Homo sapiens: one gene and its partners. The protein of the gene in region 3 purifies or fractionates together with the protein of the main gene of each other region. This does not show direct contact. Each region holds a gene or a part of one and is shown on either strand. Other genes may lie near its edges.

Region 1 (8,926 bases), on a different chromosome or scaffold from region 3:
CTAGAATATTAGTGCATCTGCTTCAAGTGTACCTTTGGAAATGTAAAATGATTTTGAGATCACGTAAAAAAGCCAAGCTCTGGACTTCACCAAACTCACAGAAGAGTTGCAGGCACTCTTTTGCCTGCTTGCTAAAATGTGTTTCATTTAAAAGTATACCGGCCGGGCGCAGTGGCTCACGCCTGTAGTCCCAGCACTTTGGGAGGCTGAGGTGGGCAGATCACTTGAGGTCAGAAGTTCAAGACCAGCCTGGCCAACATGGCGAAACCCATCTCTACTAAGAACAAAAAAAATTAGCTGGGCATGGTGATGCGTGCCTGTAATCCCAGCTACTTGGGAGGCTGAGCTGGAAGAGTTGCTTGAACCCAGGAGGCGGCGGTTGCAGTGAGCCGAGATTATTCCGCCACTGCTCTCCAGCCTGGGCAACAGAGTGATACTCTGTCTCAATTAAAAAAAAAAAAAAAGGTATCCCCACACATAGCAGAAACTGTTTCTAAAAGTTGTTTTCATCATGAAATAGTGAAGATGTGGTGTTTTGGGGGCTACCTTTACCTGCCAAAAAAGACTGTGCATGACCAAATTGGTTTAGGTCAATCTGCGACAAGGCAGTAGGCGAGTGGTGCAGGCAGAGAGGGGCCGCCTGGCAGGAGGAGCCTTAGGGACTCAGGTGCAAGAGAGTTCTCAGGAACTTGGAAAAAGGCTGGTTTACTAGGGGTGCTGGCTGCTGGGGGTGGTTCCTGAAGGACTTCGCTTCACTGAGCTTAGAATTTATCCCTCCAATCAGTGTTGTTGAAAATGTGCCCAAGAAGTGCTTGGGGTGGGAGGGGGGAGCGGTGGGACTCTAGATCCTGCTTTTAAAAATAAGCTCCCCAGGTGATTTTCAACCCACCAGAGTTTAAGAATACCATTTTAAGCCATTGGTATTGGTTTTTCAAAGTGCTGGGGGGTTCTGGGGGGCGCTGGGGGGCACTAGGGGGGCGCGGGGCGGCAGGGAGGGAGATGACTGGATGGGTGCCTTCGCAGCAGGGCGGAGCATGGATGGGAGGGGACAGGTCAGAGGTCAGGAGGTTTTCGGACAGTCCAGATGACAGTGCTGGAAAGGGCAGGGGCAGTTTCAAAAGACACTTTAGGTAGTGATCAGTCAGTTGGCTGGAGTGCCTGGCAGGAGGGCTGGGTGAGGGAGCCAGCAGGGCAGATGACTGACAGATTTCTGGTTTGGGGATAGGATGGAAAGTAAGAGCGCAAACCTTCCTTAGGCTACTGTTGGGTCTGTCCCTTTAGTCTCGGGAATGCGGATGGAAGCACGGCCTGCAGTTCTGTCATTCTCTGGGCCTGTCTGGGCCGCTGCCCCAACCACCCATGCCAATCTGTGTGACCGAATCCCCCTCAGCCCACTCGTGGCTGCCCTTGCTACCACCCATGCCAATCTGTGTGACCGAATCCCCCTCAGCCCACTCGTGGCTGCCCTTGCTAGCAGCTGCTCAGCCTCTCCAGGTCCTCGGTCCCTGCCTGTGCCATGCCTGGTCACTGATGGGTTCTAGAAGGTGTGGTTTCAAATGAAAAAGGCATTATGTGATAACACTCAAAAAAGGAGTTATTATAACCTTCACTACTTAGTTCCTTTTAAATAAAATAAAGACAATCCCCAAAGTGGATTATGCAGAATAGACAATGAGGGCCGTTTCCCCATGGTCGCTGTTGCCCCAGATCCCTGCCAGATGGCTCGGCAGAGCAGCTCAGGTTTCAGCAAATTGCAGAACCTCATTAGGACTCGATTTCATGTTTTTAGATGCTGTAGGCTCTACATCAGATGATGATGACTTCGGAAACCTGTATGACAACACAATGAAAGCATGCTAGTGACATGTCCAATGAAATCTGAAACAGTCGGTGAATTCTTTGCATATTTTATTTTTCTTTTTTTGATTTCCAACTCACACACATCTGGCATATTTTACATCTTTGCAATAAAACATGGTTACAATAGCTTAAGGAATTTATATATCCAAAATATTTCACCATGATCTCAAGATGAAATGAACTTGTCTTCCAGATGTTAAGTATCCTCCCAATTCTAAGCTACAAACTCAAGATATTGCTTACAGCCTGGTGATGAATAACTTAATCATTACGCTGATTCCCCATAATTTCAGAATTTCATAAATACAAACAACAGTGAAGAAGGAATTCAGTGCTAAAACTTACTAGTACAAGGTGGATAACAAATAAGTAATCACATCAATAAATAATGATATGTTTCTGGTGCAAAGTGCCAATACAAAGAACCCATTATCTTGTTTTATCTTTTTAAATAAATGACTGCGAGTGAGTGTAAATTCTGAGAAAATTACATTCCTGTAACATGCCTCATAGCCCTACCGACACAATATGTACATCTATGACGATACAGTCACCAAATATACAAAGAAGAAACATGAAGAAAGTGTATATACCCCTGGGTGTATAACTTGATCAGTACAATGTATGGAAAATCATTTGATAGCCATCATTTTATATCATAAAAGATGAAATGCCTTAGGCTAAGAATGTGGCTTTCAGTGAGAATTTCACGAGAACCTAAAAGAATAACTTCAGTTATTGTTGTAATAAAGTTTGACTTGTTATTAAAGAAACTAAGCTATTCAAGAACCAAAGAGAAAAAAAAAGTTAGCATCAGATTATCCTCCCCTAATGTATACACACCAAGCCAGTGGGATAACTCTGGAAGAGATGTCCAGGTGCTGGGAAGTTATTACTACAGAACTAACGCCCATGACTCCTATTTATACAAGAAAAACCAGGACCTCATCCCTAAGCCCCCTTTCTGCTGTGTCTTCAAATTATGCAGGGTAGGGCTGAATTTTCTTTGTATAAAGTACCCAAAATGGCAAATAATGGCTTAGTATCCAAATGCTTTATGAGCAAATTTCACTCAGAAGGGATGACTTTAGATTAAAAAGTGCAAACTATATTTTGGTGAAAATGTCAAAAATTACTGATGGAGCCCAAATTCAACCCTTTCATACAAGCTGTGTCCTTGGACAGATCTTTCTGTTTCATAGTGTGAATGCACCTGTTCCATCAAGCCAACAGGAGTAAGGAACATGCAAGTTGTAACTCCACAATAAAATTAAGAAACATTTTGTTCTTTATACAAGGTTTTACTTTTACAAAAGTATCCCTTTTAAATAAGATGCATCTGATGTACAAAGTATCAAACGTGTTTTTTTTTTTTTTTCTCAGCTTGAAAAGAGGCTGGAAATGGGATGCAGGTTAGGTTCAAAGCTTAAACTTTGTAACAACTGGACACAAGGTTCCTCAGAATTGTCAAAAGTCTCTTGTGACACATCCTACAACCTTTTCTCAATAAACAACAATATATGAAATAATTACCAAAACATCTCCTAATTCATATAATTTACATGATATAAGCTTGCTTGATAGCAGCTGGTGTTCAGTCGTGAAAAAACACACAAAGTAAAATGGTTGCTGACTACAATGTACAGCTATTGCTGGGTGTGATGGAATGTACAAACGGAGGTCGATGTAGACGAGTTTTTTCCACCAGAGATATTGCCTTTCCATGCAGCACTTGTGCTCTCAGCTTTAACTTGGCTTTTGGTTCTTCCTTTATCTTCAGTATCTGTTCTGATGCTCATAATGCCACCGATTAAAATCTATATTAAAAGCTACAATGCTACCAGAAGCCATGCCAGTGATCAGAGTCCTGGAAAAGCAGAAACAGCAGTTAAGAGTGATATAAAATCATTTCTGTGGTTGCTATTTTACACTAGACAGTATCTCAAAGTTTGGCATTTTACACTAGACAATATCACGATCTCAAGGTTTGCCAAGTCTTAATTTTGTATTCATGGAAGTAGGACTGAAATTTCTTCTTGGTTCTGCTGAGAGGAGCACAGTTAGCCCGCACACACCTGGACAGCCAGCCCTGCTGCAGAGCGTGAGGGGCCCACGGAACCACATTTCCAGCCTCCGCTGGGTGCCCCATTTCTCTCAGCAATCACACACGTGCCTGTCCGCTGCCTTGTTTTGGGCATCTATTGGCTTCTCTGAGGATATCTGGCATCTCTTCCTATCTCTGTGACCTTTCTTTTCTTTGCCCCCTTGAATCACTCCACCTCTTGTCCTCTCGGTCCACAGTCTCCCTGGACGTAAAGGCAACGACGTCTCATTCTGAAGCCCCAGATGCTGATTTCCCATTGCCAAGTGGAGGTCACTGCCAGGCTGTGTCACAAAACCCTCAGATTCAACATGTCCACCATGAATCACTGGTACCTTCTGACCTTGCTGGTCTTTTGCTGGTTAAGTCACCTTGTCTCCTCTCCCTCTCCCTCCTAACTGATCAGCTGTTCAGCTCTGAGGCTTCTTTTTCAGGGATATTCCTCCCCAGTCCCACTGCCACTGACTGAACTCAGGTTTCAGGATTTCTGTCTACATAAAGTGTTGCTTCACTTTTGATTAGACACCTCATCCAATAAATACCTTTTGAGTAATATCCCCAATATATGTTTATCAGTTTATAATTGATATGCATGCACTATTCATTATAAAACAACAAAATAATCAAAACCAAGGATGAGGTTAAAATAGAAATAGAAACTTAGTATCTTTCCCCCCTCCATTGAGACCCCCTAATACTACTGCAACTTTGAATATGCTCTTCCATCCACCCTGTCTGTTCATGCCTGGTGAATGGATGAGCCTCTTCTAAGGTCTTTCCTGCCCTTCCCAGCCCTCAAGAAGAGTTCATCCCTTCCTTCTTCTGTTAGTCTGTTCCTGGTGCCCTCATATGCAATGATTATGAGGATCTGAGCTCTCTGGGGTCAGTTTCTTGTTGTGGATCCTTAGTACTTTGCACTGCACTCAACCTATGATGATGGCAGCAAAATGAATACACGAACGAGTAAGAATATCAGGGAAATATTGAAACTGCTTACAAACACAAATCATTTCAAACACTCTGGAAACACACATATATACAAATAGTAACACAACAAACCATTCCCATTTATTCCTAAGTATGGGCTGCAGCACTTTGGGATACTCCAATAATAACCTTAAACCTTCTTTAAAAACAGTCTGGGCTGCAGACCAAACATCCTTTCCCAGACTAAATTAGCTTACAGCGTTTTTCCTGATGACTTCAGTGCCATTTTATTATATTGTGAAGATGCTTTGTTAACTTTATTATGTCTTAATATTTAAAATATTTTAAAACCAATACTGTTATGAGGAATATTACATGTAGTTGGGAAAAACGTTGATTAACAAGCTTTTCTTATTTCTGTTAAATAGCAAAAATTAGAAATCACATGCCATATTCAGATTACAGGGTTGTAGTTTATTTTAAAGGCTTAGGAACTTTAGACTTTATATTTCTAATATTATTTTCACTTTGTAAGAAACCCAAAGGTAAATTTCAGGAAATAATAAAATCCTATTGCAAATTGAGGAACAATGGAAAATCATTATTAATTGATTAACATCCATATCAACTCTTTCCAAGAAAGAGCTGGATTAAAGGATTAACGTGTTTTAAGGAAATACATACAATAAAACAAAATAACATAAATGAGAAACAGGTAAATAAGAACATGGGGGTAAAAAAATTGTTCTGGGTAATGCGTGAGTGCCGCATGCTGTTGAAAGGGGGGCCAGCTACGGCCCACACTATGCACTTTGCTGGAAACTGGTTAGCAAGAAGTAGGTCTCACACTGAATCCCACCTCTGCTGAAAAATACGTGTTTCCCTCACATCATATAAGCCAGGGTGGCCTGTCTGAGACTAGGCAGGAACCTGAGAACAGGGAACTTGGTGGGAGTAAGTTCTATGTCTTGGGCCCTTAAAACATGTCTGCAGGCACCTGTTCTTCATCAGATCCTTTTCTTTTTTTCCTTCTTATTCTCTTCCTCTGTTTCCCTCTCACTAGAATCCTTACTCTTCCCCTCATTTTCCCCTTTTCTTTGCCAGTCTTTCTTTCATTTGGATGCTGGAATTGCACTCACAGCACAATTCACCCTTGGTAGAATGAAGAGAGCCTTCAATGACAGTTCTCAGTGATGATACTTGTCCTTGACGCAGCTCACCTCTGGTCATGGGACAAGTCCATTGCTCTAATGCCAGCATCACATCCAGGGTAAATGTACAGTTGCTTGAAGTCACAGGCCTGCCAGACCTCTACTACCCCATTGTCCCCTCCGGTGACCAGGTTCTGGCCGTCACTGCTCAGGAGAATGGCCTTCAGAAAAGGTAAAACAAACAAACAAAAAAAAACAAAATAAAATAAAATACACAACAACCATTTCTCTCAATTTTTCCTAAATAGCCAACTGTCACTACTGAAAAGTACTCAGTACAGTTCCCTTATCATTATTGCCTACTGTCAGTCATTTGTCCAACAAAATCAAGTTCAATCCACAGAATTTCCATTGTGGAATTCATCGAAGTTCTTACATATACAAAAGATCTTATTAAAACCAAGATTAAATTCCCAAGAGAATATTATCAATTTAATCCAGGAAGAATTTGAGCATTAAGTAACATGTTTAGTTAAATCTTGAATATTAATATTATAGAGAATTAAAGAACAAATGGAAGAAACATATTTCAAAACAGTGTTTAATAATGACAACCCAGCAATTATAATTTATTCATGAATGAAGGGCAAATGGGTATATGTAATTTTTGTTTAGGGTTCTAGAGATAGAAATCTTTGAAAATAAACTCACTTTTAATGTTGTGAGGGTGCAGCACTGAAACAATTATAAAAGGAGCTTTAAAAACCCTCCCGAGGTTCTAAGCTTTAATCAAACAACAGCTATCATTTCTGAAGTCTAATGCAGTGAGTTAATTACTTGCAATTAAATGAACTTTGGGTTTCTTTAAAGTACCAGTCCGCAAGAAGTTATATACTTTTAATCTAGAACACATTTATCTGGATAGCACAGACATTCTATTATGAATTATTTAATGTAAAACAATCAATCTTTAATCTCTTGGCTTCAGTCCTACTTAGCACGAACTATGCAGATTTACCCGTGTTGAATCATTGATCTCCATTTGAGCCAAAAGTTTCCCATTAATGCTGAAATTACTGAATCGCCCTCGTTCATAGTATATGATACAGTGGCCTTCGCTGGAGACAGATATCAAGCGTGGGAATAAGCAGTTTTCTGGTCCTTCAAGGGCTCTCAGCAAATCTCCAGTGATGGTGTGGACAAGGCAAGGGCCCTCTGCAAAGTGGGGACATCAATGCCAGGGTCAGTTGGGGACGACAAACGACATACTAGCTCCCACCAACCTGAAAACCTTGCTGGGTGTGCGCTCAGATGTGACGGAAGAGGACAGGAAAGAGGTAGGCTGGCCAGGCCAAGCGCTGATGCTACATTTAAACAGAGCAAAGCCAGAGTACCTGCTACATATCACACTCCTACGCCGCACGCTTCTTCACCAGGTAGATACTTGGTCTTTTCCTTTGTCAGGTAATATTCATAGTAAAATGGTACAGCTCACAGATTACGTGACAATAAAAGACTTTATGTGCCAGACATTTTCTCTTAATACGCTTTTAGAAACTTTTCTTGAAAGTTTAATAGAATTATCAGAACAGCTGCTCATTTTCTCAAGTAGCATCAAAATTTTACGCGTTGTACCACATCAATACACTGCCGTCAAGTACATTTTACCTTTTTCTGTCATCCATACGCATAAAATGTAAAAGCAAAATTGAGAAAACTTAAGTATTTCAGCCTACAGAAAGATATTTTGTCTTTCAAATAAATGAATAGTGAGGCAAGAGTGTGAAAGGAGGGTAAGGAGTGACATTTGGCTCTGATGGTTTCTGGGTTTTTTTGCCCTTATAAAATAGTGTTGATAAAGTAAAAAATTCACTGATCAATTCATAAAAATTGGTCACTATAGTTTGGTGTTATATATCTATTCCCTTGTCCCAAAAAGATTTCCACAAAACAATGTATGAATTACGTGTTTATTTTTAATTGAGCTGAATAGACACATATTTTACAAAGCAAGTGACATGATTAAATTTTGTCCTGATTACTAAAGTAATAGACTTGCCCTATAGAAAATTAGGAAAACACCAGCAATCATCTCTAATATCACACAGCCCCTGCAGGAAATGTCTCTTTCTTGGCGCCTACTATGTGTCACTTATTTTCCTTTTTTTTTTTTTTTTTAACTTCACAGGGTAAAATGATATTACACATATTATTACTTTTTAAAATTAAAAGACTGAAAATATCCTATGTGTCCATTTCTGGGTTATTTATTCTTAGATACCAAAATTTTAAAAACATGGTGCCAGCCTTCAGACTCTATCCATTCTCCGTAGAAAGGCTGAAATGAGCTCTAACAACCAAACCTATCTATCTCATCACCTCGATTAAAAAACTTCAATAGTTTCCTACTATACTCATTTAAAAAAAAATTGCAAATGCTTGTGCCCCAGGCCCCTCCCATCCCTTCAGCCTTCTCATTCCTCCAGGTTGTGGCACCACGGTGATACTCCAGCAGCACCCAGGGCTCCTTTCAGTTTCTCCAAGCATCAGGCTCCTTTCTGCCTGGGAGTCTTCCCACAGAGAACTGCTATTTGAGCCAGAACTAGGACCTAAGTTTCCTGACTTCCTGAAATGAAAGATCTTCTACAAAAACTCCAAAGAGGCTGGGTGTGGTGGCTCACGCCTGTAATCCCAGCAATTTGGGAGGCTGAGGTGGGTGGATCACCTGAGGTCAGGAGTTAAAGACCAGCCTGGCCAACATGGTGAAACCCCATCTCTACTGAAAATACAAAAAATTAGCCAGGCTTGGTTGCGGGCGCCTGTAATCCCAGCTACTAGGGAGGGTGAGGCAGGAGAATCACCTGAACCCAGGAGGCGGAAGTTGCAG
Region 2 (8,959 bases), on a different chromosome or scaffold from region 3:
CTGGTAAATGTGCTATTAAAAATGAATTTTCTTCTGTAATGCCTATAAAATGCTTTTAAACATAACAAGAATCTTACACAAATAAAAAAAAATAAATTAGGTCACTTTAAAATCATAAATCATACAATGGGGGATAACTTGAAGTACACAGATTTTTTTTAATGCTAAAAATACATTGGAAATATTGATAATGTTATAACAATTTTTTTTTTTTTTTTGAGACAGAGTCTCGCTCTGTCGCCCAGGCCGGAGTGCAGTGGCGTGGTCTCAGCTCACTGCAAGCGCCACCTCCCGGGTTCACACCATTCTCCTACCTCAGCCTCCTGAGTAGCTGGGACTACAGACGCCCGCCACCACTCCCAGCTAATTTTTTTGTATTTTTAGTAGAGACAGGGTTTCACCGTGTTAGCCAGGATGGTCTCGACCTCCTGACCTTATGATCCGCCTGCATCGGCCTCCCAAAGTGCTGGGATTACAGGCTTGAGCAACTGCGCCCGGCCTATACCAATTATTTTTTAATACTTCTAGTAATAAACCAACTTGATAAACCTACCTTCTGGTGAATTCCGTGCCATAAAATTGCTACAGGAAATCTACTACAAATTTTTTTAAAAGAGAAACCTCTGCTTTTCACATTTTTGTAATCCAGATAAGGATTCCATTCTTATAATGGAGAATAAAAGTGAATTCAGTAAAACCCTACCATAGAATAATTTCTATTCTACTTTTTAACCAAATGTCTGAAATTAATTACAAACTGTTTCTATGGATTTCTTTGAAAATAAAGACTAGGTTTATACACATCTTCCATAATAAACATATAGACAAACCTTCTCCACATCTGTATATCTGTTTCTATTGAAAATAATAGATCAGTGAGCAAACGTTGATGCATCTGAGACCAGTTGAACTCAGGAATACGAAACACAGTAGATCTGGAATCCCTCCTTTGTCCATTAACTGCATCTGGTGCTATTCCTTGCCCTGGCTGCTCATGTTGCCTTGATATCTAATACAGAAATTTAAAAAGTAATAAAATAGGTTCAACTTCAGCAGGAGGCTTTAGCAAAGTAAATAATTTAGTAGCTTCTATGCAATTCATCTAACACGTTTTTAAGACACTATAAGAACCAAATTAGAGAAAGAAAAATTATCAATGAGTAATAACATTAACATTTTAGTACATGTAAGCAAAGCTATCAAAAGTGCAAAACTACCACAATTTAAAAGTAATTAACTTGGAACCATGTTAAGTATTACCACTATGTAGCATTTTATAAAAGAATCAAGTAACAGTTCTTAGTTTTTAGCCTTAGCCTAAAAGAAAGGCAGTATTTAGAATCTAAGTGGCATTTGGATTATGAAGTGGCTAGAATGAAGAATAAAAACAGAGATAACATAATGAAGAACCAACCAACAAAAACAAAAAAAAGGAGGGTGGGACAGAGGATAAGAATTGAATAAAGTGGAAAATGACAACATGCTACCAAGCACTGTCTCATGGGTCACTCTGAGATATGGACAGAGGAGAAGGCTGTGCCTCTAGATCTCACAAAGCCTCCTCTCTCTTATAGACTTCATAATACAATTTTAAATCACATGCTTAGTAACTAAAATTATACACTGGCAGGTAGGTAGCCCTAGAGTTTGTTGGAAAACTAATGTACTAGGATTGGGTTAGTCAAATAAAAGGTAAAATGCAAGTGTTTCCAATATTTGTTTTATAAACTAAAATTATACCAATCCTTCAAAGTGGTAACTTCTGGTGATACTATGGTAAAAATAGTAATAAAAACTGTCATTTAATGAACTCACATTAACTGCCAAACACTGTGCTAATGATCTGAAATACAATCTTCACATTCATTGCATTTATTTAGTTGTGAATAGCATGTGAACCAAATTCAAAATAAAATAAAATTTAAGTATATACACTTGCTCTTTTTTAACTCAGTGCAAAAGTACTTGAATAAGACAATATATAAAATCACCTCAAGCACATGTCGATGAGGTTGAGGTGCTTCCACGTTGGGACTGGCCTTCAACTCCAGCCTCTCAGTATCTGTAGCAACATTGGAAACATCCAACTTCGCAATCTTTTGCTCAGAAGAAGCCTCAGAGACACTACCATGACAATCATTAATTAATTTGGTTTCTCTAGTGAGGTTAGTTGCTTTCTTCCCTTCCTCCAGCATCTGACCAAGGTCTGATTCTACAGCTATTTGGGAAACAGTAGTTTCTGGTGACATAGCTGAAGACCCTGATGCTGTCATAGTCTGAATTCCAGAATCTTTAGAATCTTGAGTTTCAGTATCAGTTTGCTTTTCAGTAACAGGTTTTCCTTCTTGAAATATTAATTTGTCATCATTACCAAACATGTCCAGTTTTTCACCGGCTTCAGATGCAGCTGGAGACAAACTGTTATCTTGGAGCTCTGTGGGTAGATTAGCTTCCTCAGTAGGACTGCCTTCTACTTTCAGTTCCACATAATCATCATCTTCCTCTTCCTCTACTATAGATTTATCCAAGAATTCTGGCATCTCTGAGGCATCCTCTTCTGAAGGAGAACTTATAGAAGCAGTTACTTCACTGACAGTCATTGAATCTTTGCCAGTTGTTATAAAAGAATTAGAGGAAATAGCCACAGCTTCTATTATGTCAGAAGATACTTCTAAATCATCTGCATTCCTTGTCTCATTTGTCAGTGTTTCTTCCAAAGTGCCTTCATCTGGTAACTCCTGATTTTCTTGCTCAGCTTTCATTTCTTCATAAGATGTATTAGTAGTTTGCAGTTCAATATTAGATGCAGATTCTAGTGAACTTGTCTTCTCTATACTTGAATTTTCATTACCATTTGTGGTGAAATGAGGACAGACAGGAGAATCCTTCGTATCTGGTTGCTGGGATCCTACTGAAACATTAATATCCCTTCTAATGCCAGAGGCTGCTTGAACTGAAGTTGAAGAACACAGCCCTATTTCTTCATCAACTTTTCCTTGCTGTTCCCTAAATATATTGGCAAGGTTTTCTTTGTGTATTTCAAAAGTGACCTAGGTGAAAAATGTACAATCAGTTAAAATATGCATGAGAAATGAAGACAGAATACAAAATATAAAACTAAATAATTTTCAAATACATAGTTTATATAATACAATAAAACTTAATTTTCCTATATTTTATTTTAGTAGAATGATAAATGTAAGTCAATCACAGAAATCTAAATATTCATTAAAAACTACAGCCAATTTTAATGTTAACAAGTAACACAGCATGAAACCACAAGAAGAACATAATTATTTAGCCTATTATTAAACATGTATAGGAAAAGGATACACTATTCTACTGGCCACCATAACTTGTACCAGAATTTAAGTATGTACCATTGGGAAGTGCTTTATGCACTGGATAACACTTGTTTCAACCGCTATGAATACCAATTTCCCCAGGACTTGTCCGCAGGAGAGATTAAAAATATCAATTAATTATGCTCACCATTACAGTAGCTCTACAGATATCTATTAAGCTACAAAACCATTATCTCACTAAGCCAATGAATACAAATTCTTTTAGCAATGGGAGAAAAAAGATCCAGCCCTTCCCCCAAAGGTTAACCATAATTTCCAAAGTTTGAACTGGTCGAAAATAGTCTGAATGTTTCAGTTGATCCATCCATACATCCATTCATTCCATTTATATCTGAGTGACTACAATATATTAGGCACCGTGAACATTCCTATATCATGCTTTGCCTTTTACCCAAATGGGAAAAAACTGAAAAAGTAAATTTTTTTTTAAAGAGAGTGCTGTACTTGTTAATGTCACAAGATTTAGAATTTTTAAAATCTAAGGATTATCTTATAGCCACCATCATATGATTTCCATTGGTGTTTCAATGGTAACCCCCATCACCCCTTGCAACAAAAATGCCAGAAAAACCTATAACACATGCAGAAAGTATTAGCCTAATTATAGTTTATTAATCCCAAAAGTGTTTGTTTCTGTAATCTACATTATTATATAGAGTAAACTGAACATTCATTCAATAAATCTTTATTGAGCCATAGTATAAGAGGATGATAGGACAATCAAGGAAGAAAAGCTGATTTTTTTATCCACAAAAATCAATAGGCCTTATTGAATCACAAGAGTATACACACAGATGAAAAGCAAACAAAAGTAAAAATGACTCTCAATGCAAAAATTTCCTTCTATCGACATTAACTCGCCTTTACTCATGACATATACAGAACATTCATGCCATGTGATATACCTAAAAATAAAAATGTTCAGGGAATGAATATTTTCCTGTGAATATTTGTATTTTTCCTAATTGTAACTATTTCCACATTGTAACTATGTTCTTAATTCTAAAACTTAGAAATCTTTTTATAATATTTCAACAATAAATGCATGTATTCCTCACTAAACAGTAAAATGACATAATCACATTAACAAAATATCAATTTCTTTTACATTCACAATGCCAATATTTTATTTGACATGGGTTCTGTATTTTAATTGACCAATTCCTCATATTCATTCAACAAAAATTTACTGAACATCGGTAGCAGGCCAGGCATTGTGTGATGAACACATTGTTCCTGACTTCATGGAGCTTATATTCTAAAGAAGGTGTCAGAAAATAAACACACGAATATGTAAGATAATGTCAAATAGTAATAAGAGCTTTGAAGGGAGGGGGAAGTACAGAGTGAAGAACTGTTCTGAAAGTCTAGGCGAGAAGGTGTATTTACTAGTGTAACTGCAGTAGGCCTCTCTGTTCTATTTGAACAAAGGCAAGAATAAAAGAGAGAGCAAGCCATGTAAAAAGAAAAGAGTTTCAGGCAGAGAAGAACAAATGCAAAGGCCTTGGAGCTGAAATAAGCTTGGTATGTATGATGAATAACAATAAAGCAATAAACTGAGAACTAAAGAAAATGAGGTCAAAGATGTGGCCACGAGCTAGATTATGATTGTAGAACATTATAGACTGTATTAAAGACTGTATTTTATTCTGAGAGAGCCATTTGAGAATTAAGAGTGTAGGGAAGACAATCTGATTTCCCTTTTTAAAAGATCAGTGGCTGGGCACGGTGGCTCACGCCTGTAATCCCAGCACTTTAGGAGTCCAAGGTGGGCAGATCACCTGAGGTCAGGAGTTTGAGATCAGCCTGGCCAACATGGTGAAACATTGTCTCTACTAAAAACACAAACATTAGCTGGGCATGGTGGCACACACCTGTAATCCCAGCTACTCAGGAAGCTGAGGCAGGAAAATTGCTTGAACCCAACCCAGGAGGCAGAGGTTGCAGTGAGCCAAAATAGCACCACTGCACTCCACCCTGGGTGACAGAGTGAGACTCTGTCTCCAAAAAAATAAGACTGGTTAGCCTACTTTTTGGAAAACTGACTTTAGAGAGAGCATTTCTCCACCAACAAACAATTATCATTGTCAAAAGAAAGCAAGTTACATATTACCAACCTCACAGTCATTTTGAAAATAGGCCATTTATTTCTACAATAGCCTGTGTTATAGAATGACTTTAGTTTTCAATAATCATTTGCTTTGATTTTATTTATATTAAAGGTTTTTAGAATTTGTATTATACAATGGATCAATAAACATGAGTATATGTAATTTATATGTACAGGTTAAGAAACAATTTTTTTTAATCTCACATGCCTACCACCCATGTCAAGAAGTAAAACGTTACCAGTACCTCACAATTCCCCTATGTGCCCTGCCCAAACTGTACTCCCTATTTCTCCACTACAATCAGAAAAAAATCACTATCCTGGTATTTCTATCGTTCACTGTTTATAAATAGTTTTACCTGGAGGTCAGAGCTTTGGGAGATAATTTTAAAAGATAGTTTTACTATCTATATACTAAACATACCCATTATGTTTAGTTTAAAAAACTAAGTCTAACACAAACCTAGCCAATTGTATTTTAAAGAGCAATACTGCCACACCTGAGCTCCCAAGAAAAGACAAGATACACAGAATCTGTGAGTTGCAGCAGGGCTTCAGCTTATTTGAGAGAATATGTAAAGCCATTTCTGGGAAGTCTTATAGGCAAGTCATTAGGAAATACAGGAAATATAGAGGTCAAGAGAACTGGAGAACCTATCAGAGGCAGTGTGTGCCAGGTAGAGTGTATTGGCATGAAATACTTTATATTTTTCAATTCTAAGCTCACCATGGTGAACCTCTACCCTAAGAAGTAGGTCGAAGCACAGCATGTCTTTGTGGAGTGAAGTGAGAATCTTCAGGTGATTCACATTAGACAGGAAAACAGGAATTTAATCAGCACATGATGAAGGCAAGCAAGCTAAGTACTCCTAATAAGAATACAGGTCCACCTCTCCTGAGTGAAACTGCTCCAGTCCAGATGGACTGTCATCTGCCTACTACATAGCTGCTATTGGGATCTCCCTTTCTACAGTCCTGGAGATCCCCTTCATCTCTCTTCTATGTTGTCTCTTGTTTCTTATATTTCATTTCTTCCTCTTTGTATTATTCTCTCCTTTTGTGCAATATCCTGCAGTGCCTTCTTAAGAAAGGATGTATATAAATGTTTTGAGATCTCAAATCCTGAAAAGGTATTTATTCTCGCTTCATACTTGATTAATAGTCAGAGTATAAAACCACAGATAGAAAAGCATTTACCTTCAGAATCTGAAATGCTTTTAAAATTCTAAAGTCATTTGGTTTTTAAATTTGCCCTTAATTTAATTCATCCAATGGTCTAAAAGCTAAATTGCAATTGAACAACTATCAGTATTATCTTTTTGGATGCTGTTTTCCTTAAGATATTTGTGACTTTAAAACTGATAATTTCCAATTAATTGCCAGATATTGTTCTAAATTACCCAGCTAAAAGACTAGTCATTAATCTTCACAATCATTTGATAGCTAATCTATAGCTGTTTGTAATGTTTGGAAAGCACTTCTATAAACTACTAGTTAAAGATACTTGTGAGCTAATGACTATAACATTTCTTTTGCCATTATTTTCAACTTAATTGGCACTCAAATTTACTAATTAGTAGATAAAAGATAAACACAATACATCCAGATGTTAATATTATCTTTTTAATCTATACATTAAAACCGTATAACCTGTAAAATTTAGACATTTTAAACTGTTAGGCAATGTTTAGCAACTGACTTTGTTTTTAAGCAAAGGCATCTTTTTCAGTGTCTGTTTTCATATGAAAATACCAGCTAAATATGATGTTAACTTCTGATTAAGTTACCAACCTTTGATAAATAAGATATATCTTTAAAAACAGGTGGATCTTCCCATATGTATTATCAATGAGCATAAGTCAAAATGATTGCCACCACATTAATGAGATCTTTTATAAAGACTCTGATGTATAACAATGGTATAGGTAACAGATATAATGGTAAAATCAAGCATTACTGACATAATTAAGAGCAATTCTAAAGGTTGGTAGTACAATCCCCATTTATAAAGATAGGAAGAACACTGACAAAAGAATATTGCAGCAAATAACTTCTAATCTTTTCATTTTTAAAACAGTCATTTTGATCAATTTTAATTTCTTAAAAACAGTCTAAACAGATGCTTTCATGCAAATCTAGCGTATAAACTGGTACAAATTTTTAGAGGGCAATTTAGCAATATCTACTAAAAACTTTTTAAAACATGTACAGACTCCTTCCTCTGGAAATTCCACTTACAGGAATTTATCCTACAAAATAAGGGTTACAGTATTGAACCAGGCTCATCATTGGTCAATGATAAGGAACAGATAAAGTATGATTATAATATAAATCAATAGATTTTTTAAATCTCTCTTCCATCAATTTTTCTAAATACAATTTTGGAGAATGCCAGAATATAAAAAGAAAACTTGAATCATTTACACGGTCACTCCTTCCTAGAATTTTAAGTGGTCTGATAACATTCAAATGTTATATCAAAGCTGAATCTTATGCTCTTTACTTCTCCATAATGTCATATAATATGCAGGCATTAAAATTCATGTAAGAAGCATATCATTAAATAATACTCTAAAATAGTAAAAATACGATCACATTTTGTTAGCAAATAATTATATGTTATGTATAGATTCATGTATAGAAGAGAAGACTAAAAGGTCTCGCACTAAAATGTTAATAAGTTATACATAGGTGTTTGGATAATGGATAATTTTTGTTTTCTGTGTGTATGCATTTCTGCTGGGTTCAAGATTTCCTGTAATGAAAACTTATTATTATTTTAAATTTTTTAAAGTAATAAATGCTATTTGGTTTCAAAATGTTAAAGCTAAGAATACTTTTAGCCAGGAACAAAGGTACATGCCTGCAGTCCCAGCTACTGGAGAGGCTGAAGGGAGAGGATCACTTGAGCCAAGGAGTATGAAGCTGTAGTGTGTTATATATAATGGCACCTGTAAAGAACCACCGCACTCTAGCCTGGGAAGCACAGCAACAGTCTGTCTCTCTCTCTTTTTCTTTTTTTTTTTTAAGTGCCATTTAAATTTGATAAAAACACACACACAAACACTCACACAGAAATCAGGTATTTTTAAAGAATTATTTAGCAATTAAATAAGGTGCAAAGTGCTGATAATCCATGAAATGCGGACATTTTGTAACTTTTTTATTTTTGTAATTTTTGTGAGATATCTCCTTTCATCACCCAGACTGAAGTGCAGTGGCACAATCTCAGCTCACTGCAGCTTCAGCATCCCGTATTCAAGTGATTTTCATGCCTTAGTCCCCAGTAGCTGGGACCACAGGCATGCACCACCACTCCTGGCTAATTTTTGTATTTTTAGTAGAGACAGGGTTTCACCACGTTGACCAGGCTGGTCTCAAACTCTGGCCTCAAGTGATCCACCTGCCTCAGCCTCCCAAAGTGCTGGGAGGCATGAGCCACCATGTCCAGCCAATTTTGTAACTTTTGAAATTTCTTCAAACA
Region 3 (9,689 bases):
ACTCAGGAGGCTGAGGCATGAGAATTGCTTGAACCCGGGAGGTGGAGGCTGCAGTGAGCCAAGATGGTGCCACTGCACTCCAGCCTAGGCGACAGAACAAGACTCTGTCAAAAAAAAAAAAAAAAACCCACCTGGAAAGAGGTCTTGAAGGCTCTATAGAGAGGAGACAGATGACCAAATGCAATGATGACACAAAACAAGAAGAAAAGAAATGAAAGCCAGCTAGGAACATGGGCTGGGCCCTGCTTGTTAAGACCCCTATCCATCTTGGGGTCCTTAGTAAGAATCTTTGGGCTGCGTTTCCCTCTTTTGTCTGGGAGCCGGGGTGGGGACAGAGTTGCTGCTGTCCATTGACACATACATGCCTTCCGTTCCCTCTCCCCATATTCCCTCCGTGGAGTCTGGGGCCTGGGGTCCAGTACCATCCCCACTCTCACCCCCACTCACCACCTCCACTGCTTTTGACCTCAGATGCATGCTGGGTGGCCTGGCTGCACCCCCACTCCGCCTCTACTTGATCACCAGCTCAGGTGGAGCAGGCTGGGCTTGGGGAGACAGTGCAGCCTTCAGCAGATAAAACCTGAATTCAGTTCCTACGCCCTTCCCCTCCCGTGTATGCTGCCTTTGTCCAAGTCACCTTCATGGCCCCAAGCCTCAGTTTCCCCAATCTATAAGGGAATAATAAAGGTACCTATTTCAAGTTACTGTGAAAATCAAATGAGATTATGTCTTTGTAAATGTTTTATTTTTATAAACTAACAATAAGCTGATTCACCTAGATCAGTGGCTACCATTGTCGCTTAGTACAGATTCTTACCCTTGGGTCCTAGGGAAAATTCAGGGATTTATGAACTTGGGTGGGGAAAAAAGTCATCTTTATTTCCACTAACCTTTAACTGAAATGTGGTATTTCTTTAGTTATGAATGAGGGTCATAGACCACAGTAATATCAGTAGCCCCATGGCTTTATCTCCAGCAGAAACCACAGATTTTTCACAAAATGCTTTAAAGTTGTTATTCTTGAATTATCTGGTATGCTCATCACTACTATGAAATTGTGGCATTTATTAGACTTGCTACTAGGTTTTATTATTTCACATGTTGATAGGGAAGCACACATATTATTATATCATAAATCATTTTTTCTTTCTTTTTTTTTTTTTTGATAGCTGCATTTCAATAGAGCTTGTTTCCTTTGTACCCCAGTGAATTTACTTTTATGCATTTAGAAGCATTTTTCTAGGAACGTGTCCACAGGCTTCACAGACTCCCAAAGGGGGCACAAAAATAAAGGATCCCCTGGCTTGGTGCAAGCTTGACCCCAACTTTGTTCCTGGCCTTCCCCAGCCCTGGCTTCTGGTCACCGTGTTGGGAGAGCTGAGCCTCCCTGTTTCAAGAGAAGGCCCAGGTGGTGAGGCCTCAGGTTTACAGAGCAGAGTGGATGATGGGGAAGCCCTCGCACGTTCTGTCTCTGCCTTTTGGTGTCACTCACCCACGCCCGTTATCTTCCATTCTCTGATCTTCTCTTTCCTCTTTCCTTTCTCCTTCATTACCCCTTCCACCCCCACACTCTCAGAGCCTTCCTTTCAGCCTATTTTTGAACATCCCTGAGGATAATGTCTTTTCTGTGGCTCCTGGGAGGCGCCACTACCAGCTGTGGCTCGTTAGCTGTGCTGGAAAAACTCTCGCGTTGTGCCTCAAGGGCAAGAGGAGTCTCTGGTTCCACTTGGCACTCAGAGGGGGACCAGGGATGTCTCAATGGTGGGAACAATGGGGAGTGTGACCTTGGAGCTGGAAGCAGGGCTCTGACCCCCTGCAGGAGGGATGAGAGTGCCCTCACCTCTAGTGAGAACTGAGGCCCTGCGCCGGCCCCAGCCAAACAGTGAGGGCGTGCAGACCTTGCCCAGGAAGGCCAATTTCTCAGTGCAAAGGGAGCCATGGCCAGGGAACCCGGCCCGGGTCCTCCACCTCTGAAGCTGAGCTAGGCATCTGCAGGCCAGGGTGAGGGGCTGCCCTGTGTGACCCGCCGGACCCAGGCATAGAGCAGCACCTGAGTCAGGCTGTCCCAGAGCACTGGCAGCTTCACTGCAGGGGCAGGCTGGCTCTGCTGACGCCAGACGCTCAGTCTGGGCAGAGACTTCTCAGTGGGGGCAGAGAGTAGGTGCTTCTCTGGCTAATCTGCCTCCCAGCTCTGTGTTTGATAAGGCCCAAGTCCAACTTTACAGATTGCAAATTGACCTTATTTCTCTTTGGCATCACAGAAAAACAACCTATAATCCACCAAGCCAGATATGAGCGGGCCTGACCTGTGGATCCTCTGCCCACCTGACAGACATCTGCTCATTTGTCGGGAACCCCTCAAGAGACAACTCCTCCCTGCAGCCGGCCCCTCACTTCCCCCCACCCATGGAGCACTGATCCCAGCCACCAGGGCCTGACACAAGGGCCCATCACCATGGCATCTAGCAAACACGTTTCTCACGCTTTGGGTTGTATTTATCTCTTCCCCACCTAGCTATGAATTCTGCAAGGGCGAGAGGAATGTGGGTTGAATCTGCTGCACATGGTAGCACTTGATAAGCGGTTCCTGAATGAATGAGTGAATGGCAGCCAGTCCTTCCCATTCTGAGGCAGAGGTGCAGCCAGGAGAGGGCGTGTACACAGGTCTGACTGACCACAGTGGGAGGGGACTGACCCTCATCCCTTGGTCGCAGCTGGACTTTCCTTCTAGGCCCGATCTCCCTGGCGCCCCACCCTGCACCCATCTGCCTGGGCCCACTCTCCTGGGCATGTTATCAGGGATGCACAGACTGCTCCATGTTCGAGGGGACTGAGGCACATCCATCACCCTCGTGCCCTGGGTGCTGCTGCATCCCCAGAGCCTGACTCTGTGCCTTGGACTTAGTAGATGCTCGAATCACAGTTCGCAAACCCATGCAAGAGTCTCTGATTTGGGTTTCGCTTTCCTTCCCCCTGCCTGTGTCCACTCTATAAAGGCAGAAAGGAACCTGCTGGAGCTGGGTCCTCCCCGAGAGGCTTGCAGTTCCAGAACAGGCAAAAACAATGGCTTCCCACAGGTTTACAAAACAAGGAGCAGGCTATAGCCCCGAGGAAGCTGCAGGACCCTCATCGGTTCCAACTCCTGTGGAACTGATGAGGACTAAAGGGGCCTTCCTGTGGCCATCTGGGTCCCGGAGGTGGGCGGCTTTCTAGGCTCCCCAGCCTGCCACACCCCTTGAGGCCACCCCACCCAGCTTCAAGCCTCAGCCCTAACTTCCAAAGGTGCAGCTGTGCCAGGGTGCGGGTGGGGAAGACACTGTCTCCTGGGGAGACCTCCATCTTACCTCTGAGGTCAGCCTCTGCTCAGGTGCAGCGTCACAGCAGGGGGCCTGCGTTCTGCTTCCCAGTCTGGGAGAAGAGAGTGTCTGGATATTTTCAGGAAAAAAAAAGAAAGTTGAGCAGCCACAGCAGGGCAGGGCAGTCTACATCCTCAAGTCTCCCTCAGCTTCTCTGCTGCTGCCGGCTGGCCTCAAATTTTGCCTCTCTTTGGTTCTCTGAGAAGTTTTACCAAGAGAAGAGACAGGAGGAGAGATCCAGCCTGGACTATTGTTTGTGGGGTGTGTAGGTGTGTGTGTGTGTGTGTGTGTGTGTGTGTGTGTGTGTGTGTGTATGCGTGTATGTATCCCGCGAGGCTGGAGCCACAGCTTCCCTGATGAACCATGGAGGCGGGCCAGCTCCTGAGCTGCGGTTGCCCTGGAGACCCACCTAAGCCTCTTTGCCTGGAGCAGCATTATCTGTAGAGGGAGTGGCTGATCTGACACAAAAGCCTGAGGCGACCCAGGCCCAGGCAGTGAGGGAGCACTTGTGTCCAGATGGCATTCTGTCCGCTTCCTCCTCCAGCCGGTGCTCAGTGTGGCACAAACTGGGCAAGACCATTCTCACCCAACCCTCTGCTGAGCCCTAGGTGTACCTGCTGTTGGCAAATGTTTCCAGCTGCCTGGTGGGTGGCTCCTGGATGGAGATCCCCTCTTTCTATCAGCTCCCTCCTACAGGGAAGGGGTGATTCTGGGTGCTGAGGACAGGGACCTGTGAAGATACATCTCCGCCTTTGCCCCACCACATCCCTTGCCTGTCTTCCTCTCTGCTTATCTAAATTATTTCCTTCCCTCAAGGCAAGCTCAAGAGCAGACAGTTCTGACTTTCAGAAGGAGGGGCTGTCCAGGGAGAAGAGGAACATGGAACAGAAAGCATTGACGTTGAGGTATTTGAGATAACATTTGGGGATAGCAGAAGCATCCTGTTGCTGTTCTGCAGCATCCCACACTCATGTCTGGGCCTCCTTCCTGTCTCTGCTCTCTGGTCACGCTGTCACTTGTAGACTGTTCTGCCTAGAAGCCATGTGTGGGCCAGCTTGCACCTAACAGACATTAGGTAGCACTAAAACAGATGCACACTGCCCTGTGAGGGGCATGGGAATACTGTAATGGGCATGAAGCTGCATTATAATAGATCTTAGGTAATCCTGTGCTGGGTGATAGCGTGACTTTTGCACACATCTGGTTTTGATTGTGTTGGAAATAAAGCAGAAAGTACAACCAAGAATAAATTAAACAATGGCTGATGAAATGGACTCAGGTTGCCCACCTGCCTGCCTGCATGATTTCGTCCCTGGGTGATTTGTCACTTCGTGCTTGCTCTGTGGCTGGTTCCACTCAGCTGGTTCCATCCGCCTTCCCTCTTCATCCATCAAGCAGGCAAGATTCTTGAGTCAGGAGTTGGATCATATACTTCTCTTGACCAGTTCACAGCACGACAGCCCCAAAGATTGAGTGGGTCACTTGGGGATGGAAGATCCCCACATTTGAGGGAGCTGAAGCTGACTTCCTCTGACCCACAGTTCCCAGGCGGCCTCCACCTCAGGGCCAGCTAAGGCCAGAGTCACCCAAAGCAGGTAACTGGGAGTCCCCACCTCTGAGCACCCCACCACTATCCTGGCACTTTCCCAAGGGGCGTGGCTTGGAGGTCCAAGGGCAGAAATTCCCAGGCATTTCCACACTGTAGGGAAGGGAGCAGGGGGATGACAAGACTTTACCTTCCCTTTAGGAAAGTTGCTGGAGGCAATGAGGAGAGGAGGGCATGGACTAAGTCACATGCTCATCTGTGCAGCACGTATTTCTAAAGCACCATTCTACAGGGGCACCAAGCTAGGAGCTGGCTGAGCCTGGCTCTCCTCTCTGCACACATCCCAGCCAAGCCTGTGTGTGCTGGATTGCTGGATCAGATGAGGAGGAGGTGGAAGTCTGGCAGGCAGGTGGGGAGCAGGGACAGCATTAGGGCCCAGAGTTAAAGACTTTTATCTCCAAGTAGTACAACCTTGGGTCTGCTACTGACCATTCTGTGTTTGAATAAAAACAATTCATCCCTTTTCTATAGCCATGCTTTTGTATTAATATCTCCCCTTCTAATGCACACACAATGAATGTAAATGAGATCATAGAGGCCAATGTCTTGAGCCATCAGAAAGATTTTGTCGCAGCAGCTGCCAGATGAGCTTCAGGACTCCTGACCCTGGGATGCCAGGGAACAAGCACACAGACGACTTATAGCAGTCTCCCTGGCAGACGCAGCTGGCCCCTCTCCTGCATTTTTCAAATGGTGCCTGTGATTAGAAGAGGGAGGCACTCCCTAACCCACGACCCTCCCTGACAGCTGCCTTGATACCGTAACTCACAGGCCTTGGTGGGTGTGTTGACTCCTCATTTATTCTGATTTGTTCACCTGTGGAGGATTTGTGATTATCCTTGCTGAGTGTGAATTTGCTCTGGGGAGAAAAGGTGGCGGTTGTTTTTCTCTTGTTTGGCGTGGATGGAAGTTGCTGAAGCATAGATATTCAGCAACCATCAAATGCAGAAACACCGGTGGGGCCCGCAACATTGCCTCATAGATGGCATTTGATTAATAAATTGGAAATGTGGAGTTATGAGGCGATTACATGCAAGGCTGGATTAAAATCCGCATGGAGATTAGAGATAAGCCCCGGCTCTGCGTGTGTGTGTGTGTGTGTGTGTGTGTGTGTGCACGCGCGCGCTCCGTTCTCTCCTCCCTGGAGTCTTTCCAGGCTATTTCAAACCATTTCTAACCACTCAGTCATGCGTTGGGTTTTCCAAATCCTGCAGAAGGTCTGTGTAGCCCTAATCCCAAAGAAGTTGAATTAAATGGACAGAATATTCATAGGTACAGACCAGATTTGCAGTTACTTAGACCTCTTCTCTCTGGGCATCCCTCTTTCTATTCCTGTGGTCACATTTCCTCTCCAGGTGCTACGGACTGAATGTTGTGTCCTCCCCAAAATTCAATCTTGAATCTCCCAAGGTGATGGTTAGGAGGTGGGACCTTTCGGATGTGATTAGGTCGTAAGAGGGGAGCCCTCAGGAATGAGATTACTGCCCTTGTGAAATGGTCTCAGGGAGCTTTTTGGCCCTTCTACCACGTGAGGACACTGTGAGAAGATGCCTCCATCAACTAGGAAGTGGGCTTTCAGCAGACACTGAATCTACTGGCACCTTGATCTTGGACTTCCCAGCCTCCAGAGCTGTGAGAAATAAATTTCTGTCATTTATAAGTCACCAGTTTATGGTATTCTGTAATAGAAGCCTGAATGGACTCAGACATCAGGTACAGGAAGCAATGTGTCTGACGGCAGGAAAAATGAGAATGCTCCCTTCCCTGCCAGCTAGCTGGGAATGAGGCATAAAGCACTTCTCATTCATTCATTCATTCACCAAGCATTTATTGGCTATATACTCTGTCTAGACTGCACCTTGACACTCCATTTCCATAGACTTCACTGACCACAGCTTCTTCTTCTTCTTTTTTTTTTTTTTGAGACAGAGTTTTGCTCTTGTTGCCCAGGCTGGAGTGCAATGGTGCGATCTTGGCTCACCACAATCTCCACTTCCCAGGTTCAAGCAATTCTCCTGCCTCAGCCTCCCGAGTAGCTGGGAGTATAGGCATGTACCACTACGCCTGGCTAATTTTGTATTTTTAGTAGAGATGGGGTTTCTCCATGTTGAGGCTGGTCTCGAACTCCTGACCTCAGGTGATCCACCCGCCTCAGCTTCCCAAAGTGCTGGGATTACAGGGGTGAGCCGCTGCGCCCGGCTACAGCTTTTCAGTTCTGCCCTGTAGTCTGATGGACTAATGTGAGGGCCTGTGGCAGAAACAGCTAGCTGTCCACCAAGAGTCACATTTCTCCTCCAGAGTACATGAACATGTAGTAGACATGTTCCTAGGAAGCAGCTGTCCAGCTGGGGACTTCATTCCCCATCCCTCCTCCCATCTAGGTGGGGCCGTGTGATGATAGGGTGTAGATGGAAGGGACATGAGTCACTTCAAGGTGTGGCAGGTAGACACCCCTGTGCAACTGTCCACCTTCCACCTTTCCCCTTTGCTGATCGTCAGCCAGGACTCTGAGGCCCTCGGGGTGGGGGAGACACAGTTTTGAAGGCGTTTAGGTCCCTCAATCACTTCATGAAAAGCTGCTCACCCATCATTCATGTTGAACTCTAATGTGTGCAAAAAATCATATGCTTGTTGGGTCAAAGCACTGAGTTGGGGTTTCTCTGTAATAGCAGTTGGCACCACCCAGCTCACAAAAAACCCTGTGAAAAGGGGTGGGTGTGGAAGTGCTGCCCTTTCCTAGGTTCCTGGACATCAGGGCTCTTCCTGACATGTTCGCCGCTGGTTTTTTCACCATCACCTTAAAGACATTACTTCATCCCCTGTTGTCTCATGCCCCTGTGCATGGTGCCCACTCTACCCAGAGTCCCCTCCTACCTGGGGAAGTTAACTTACCCCTCAAAGTTTAGCTTCATGGTAACCGCTTTGTGAATTATCCTCTGTCTGCTGCTCCCTCCTCTCCACTCTGAAGCCTCATTCTTTTTTTTTTTTTTTTTTTCTTTTGAGATGGAGTTTTGCTCTTGTTGCCCAGGCTGGAGTGCAATGACACGATCTTGGCTCACTGCAACCTCTGCCTCCTGGGTTCAAGCAATTCTCCTGCCTCAGCCTCCCAAGTAGCTGGGATTACAGGCGTGTGCCACCACACCCAGCTAATTTTTGTATTTTTAGTAGAGCCAAGGTTTCACCATGTTGGCCAAACTGGTCTCGAACTCCTGACCTCAGGTGATCCACCCACCTTGGCGTCCCAAAGTGCTGGGATTACAGGTGTGAGCCACTGTGCCCGGCCTGAAGCCTCATTCTTCCTTCTGTACACACAGTTGATCCTCATTACCTACCAAAGTACTGGCAAATTTGCCTACTCACTAAAATTTATTTGTAATCCAAAAGTCAATACTCATAGAACTTTTTTTTTTTTTGATGCAGAGTCTTGTTCTGTTGCCCAGGCTGGATGGAGTGCAGTGCTGTGCTCTCAGCTCACTGCAACCTCTGCCTCCCAGGTTCAAGCGATTCTCCCACCTCAGCCTCCCAAGTAGCTGGAATTACAGGCTTGTGCCACCACACCCGGCTACTTTTTTTTTTTTTTTTTTTTTTGAGATGAAGTCTCGCTCTGTCGCCCAGGCTGGAGTGCAGTGGCGAGATCTCGGCTCACTGCAAGCTCCACTTCCCAGGTTCATGCCATTCTCCTGCCTCAGCCTCCCAAGTAGCTGGGACTACAGGCACCCGCCACTACACCCAGCTAATTTTTTTGTATTTTTTTAGTAGAGATGGGGTTTCACCATATTAGCCAGGATGGTATCAATCTCCTGACCTTGTGATCCGCCTGCCTTGGCCTTCCAAAGTGCTGGGATTACAGGCGTGAGCCACCACACCCAGACTAATTTTTGTGTTTTTTAGTAGAGACAGGATTTCACCGTGTTAGCCAGGATGGTATCAATCTCCTGACCTGGTGATCCGCCCGCCTAGGCCTTCCAAAGTGCTGGAATTACAGGCGTGTGCCACCATGCCCGGCCTAATTTTTGTGTTTTTTAGTGGAGACAGGGTTTCACTGTGTTGGCCACGCTGGTCTCGAACTCCTGAGCTCAAGTGATCCCCTGCCTCAGCCTCCCAAAGTGCTGAGATTACAGGTGTGAGCCACTGCACCTGGCCTACTCATAGTATTAGATTGCTGTAAGAGTAATTGCGGTTTTTCCCATTAAAAGTAATTACTTTTGCGCCAACCTAATACTTTTGTGGTCATTCTAGACATGTAGAAAAATGTTAGTGACCTGATGGACTTGTTCCCTGCTGAGCTTGAACAAGGCACGCTCTGCCTTCTTGTTTCAGCTCTCATGATCTTAAGTGTCCTTTTCACAGTCTATTTAGTGCCCACTTTTCATACTTTGTGCTTTTTATTTGTGATTTTGATATCGAAAATGGCCCCAAAAGTAGTGCTGAAGGGCCTTCTAGTGTTCCTAAGTGCAAGGAGGCAGTGACACGCTTTACTACATGAGTTAGATCAGCTTCCTTCAGGCCTGACTTAGCACTGCTGGCGGTGAGTTCAGTGCTAATGAATCAACAATATAGAGTAAATAAGGTGTCTTTCAATAGAAATGCACATAAAACAAGGTTATGTATTGGTCAGCTGACAAAAATGTCATGACCAGAGGCTTCAGGAACCTCATCCAGGACGAGGACTGAACTTCACCCTGTATTTCCCCTAGGAGCAATGGTTCAGTGTTTGCTAATTCACA

Evidence for each region. Proteins that work in one complex are often made in the same cells at the same time.
Region 1: the proteins of RD3 (region 3) and NBEA purify together in Homo sapiens (affinity purification with mass spectrometry; 3 studies listed by BioGRID and IntAct, with this or other methods). This does not show direct contact.
Region 2: the proteins of RD3 (region 3) and LRBA purify together in Homo sapiens (affinity purification with mass spectrometry; 3 studies listed by BioGRID and IntAct, with this or other methods). This does not show direct contact.

What each region holds. Positions count from the first base shown.
Region 1 is NC_000013.11:35,665,702-35,674,627, reverse strand, and holds the end of NBEA (neurobeachin), read right to left. Parts: intron 7,255-8,926; coding exon 7,058-7,254; intron 6,261-7,057; coding exon 6,109-6,260; intron 3,728-6,108; coding exon 3,637-3,727; 3' UTR 1,892-3,636; downstream 1-1,891. UniProt on the Homo sapiens protein: Binds to type II regulatory subunits of protein kinase A and anchors/targets them to the membrane. May anchor the kinase to cytoskeletal and/or organelle-associated proteins.
Region 2 is NC_000004.12:150,849,894-150,858,852, forward strand, and holds part of LRBA (lipopolysaccharide-responsive and beige-like anchor protein), read right to left. Parts: intron 3,051-8,959; coding exon 1,992-3,050; intron 1,010-1,991; coding exon 831-1,009; intron 1-830. UniProt on the Homo sapiens protein: Involved in coupling signal transduction and vesicle trafficking to enable polarized secretion and/or membrane deposition of immune effector molecules. Involved in phagophore growth during mitophagy by regulating ATG9A trafficking to mitochondria.
Region 3 is NC_000001.11:211,488,424-211,498,112, forward strand, and holds the start of RD3 (protein RD3), read right to left. Parts: upstream 3,740-9,689; 5' UTR 3,345-3,739; intron 1-3,344.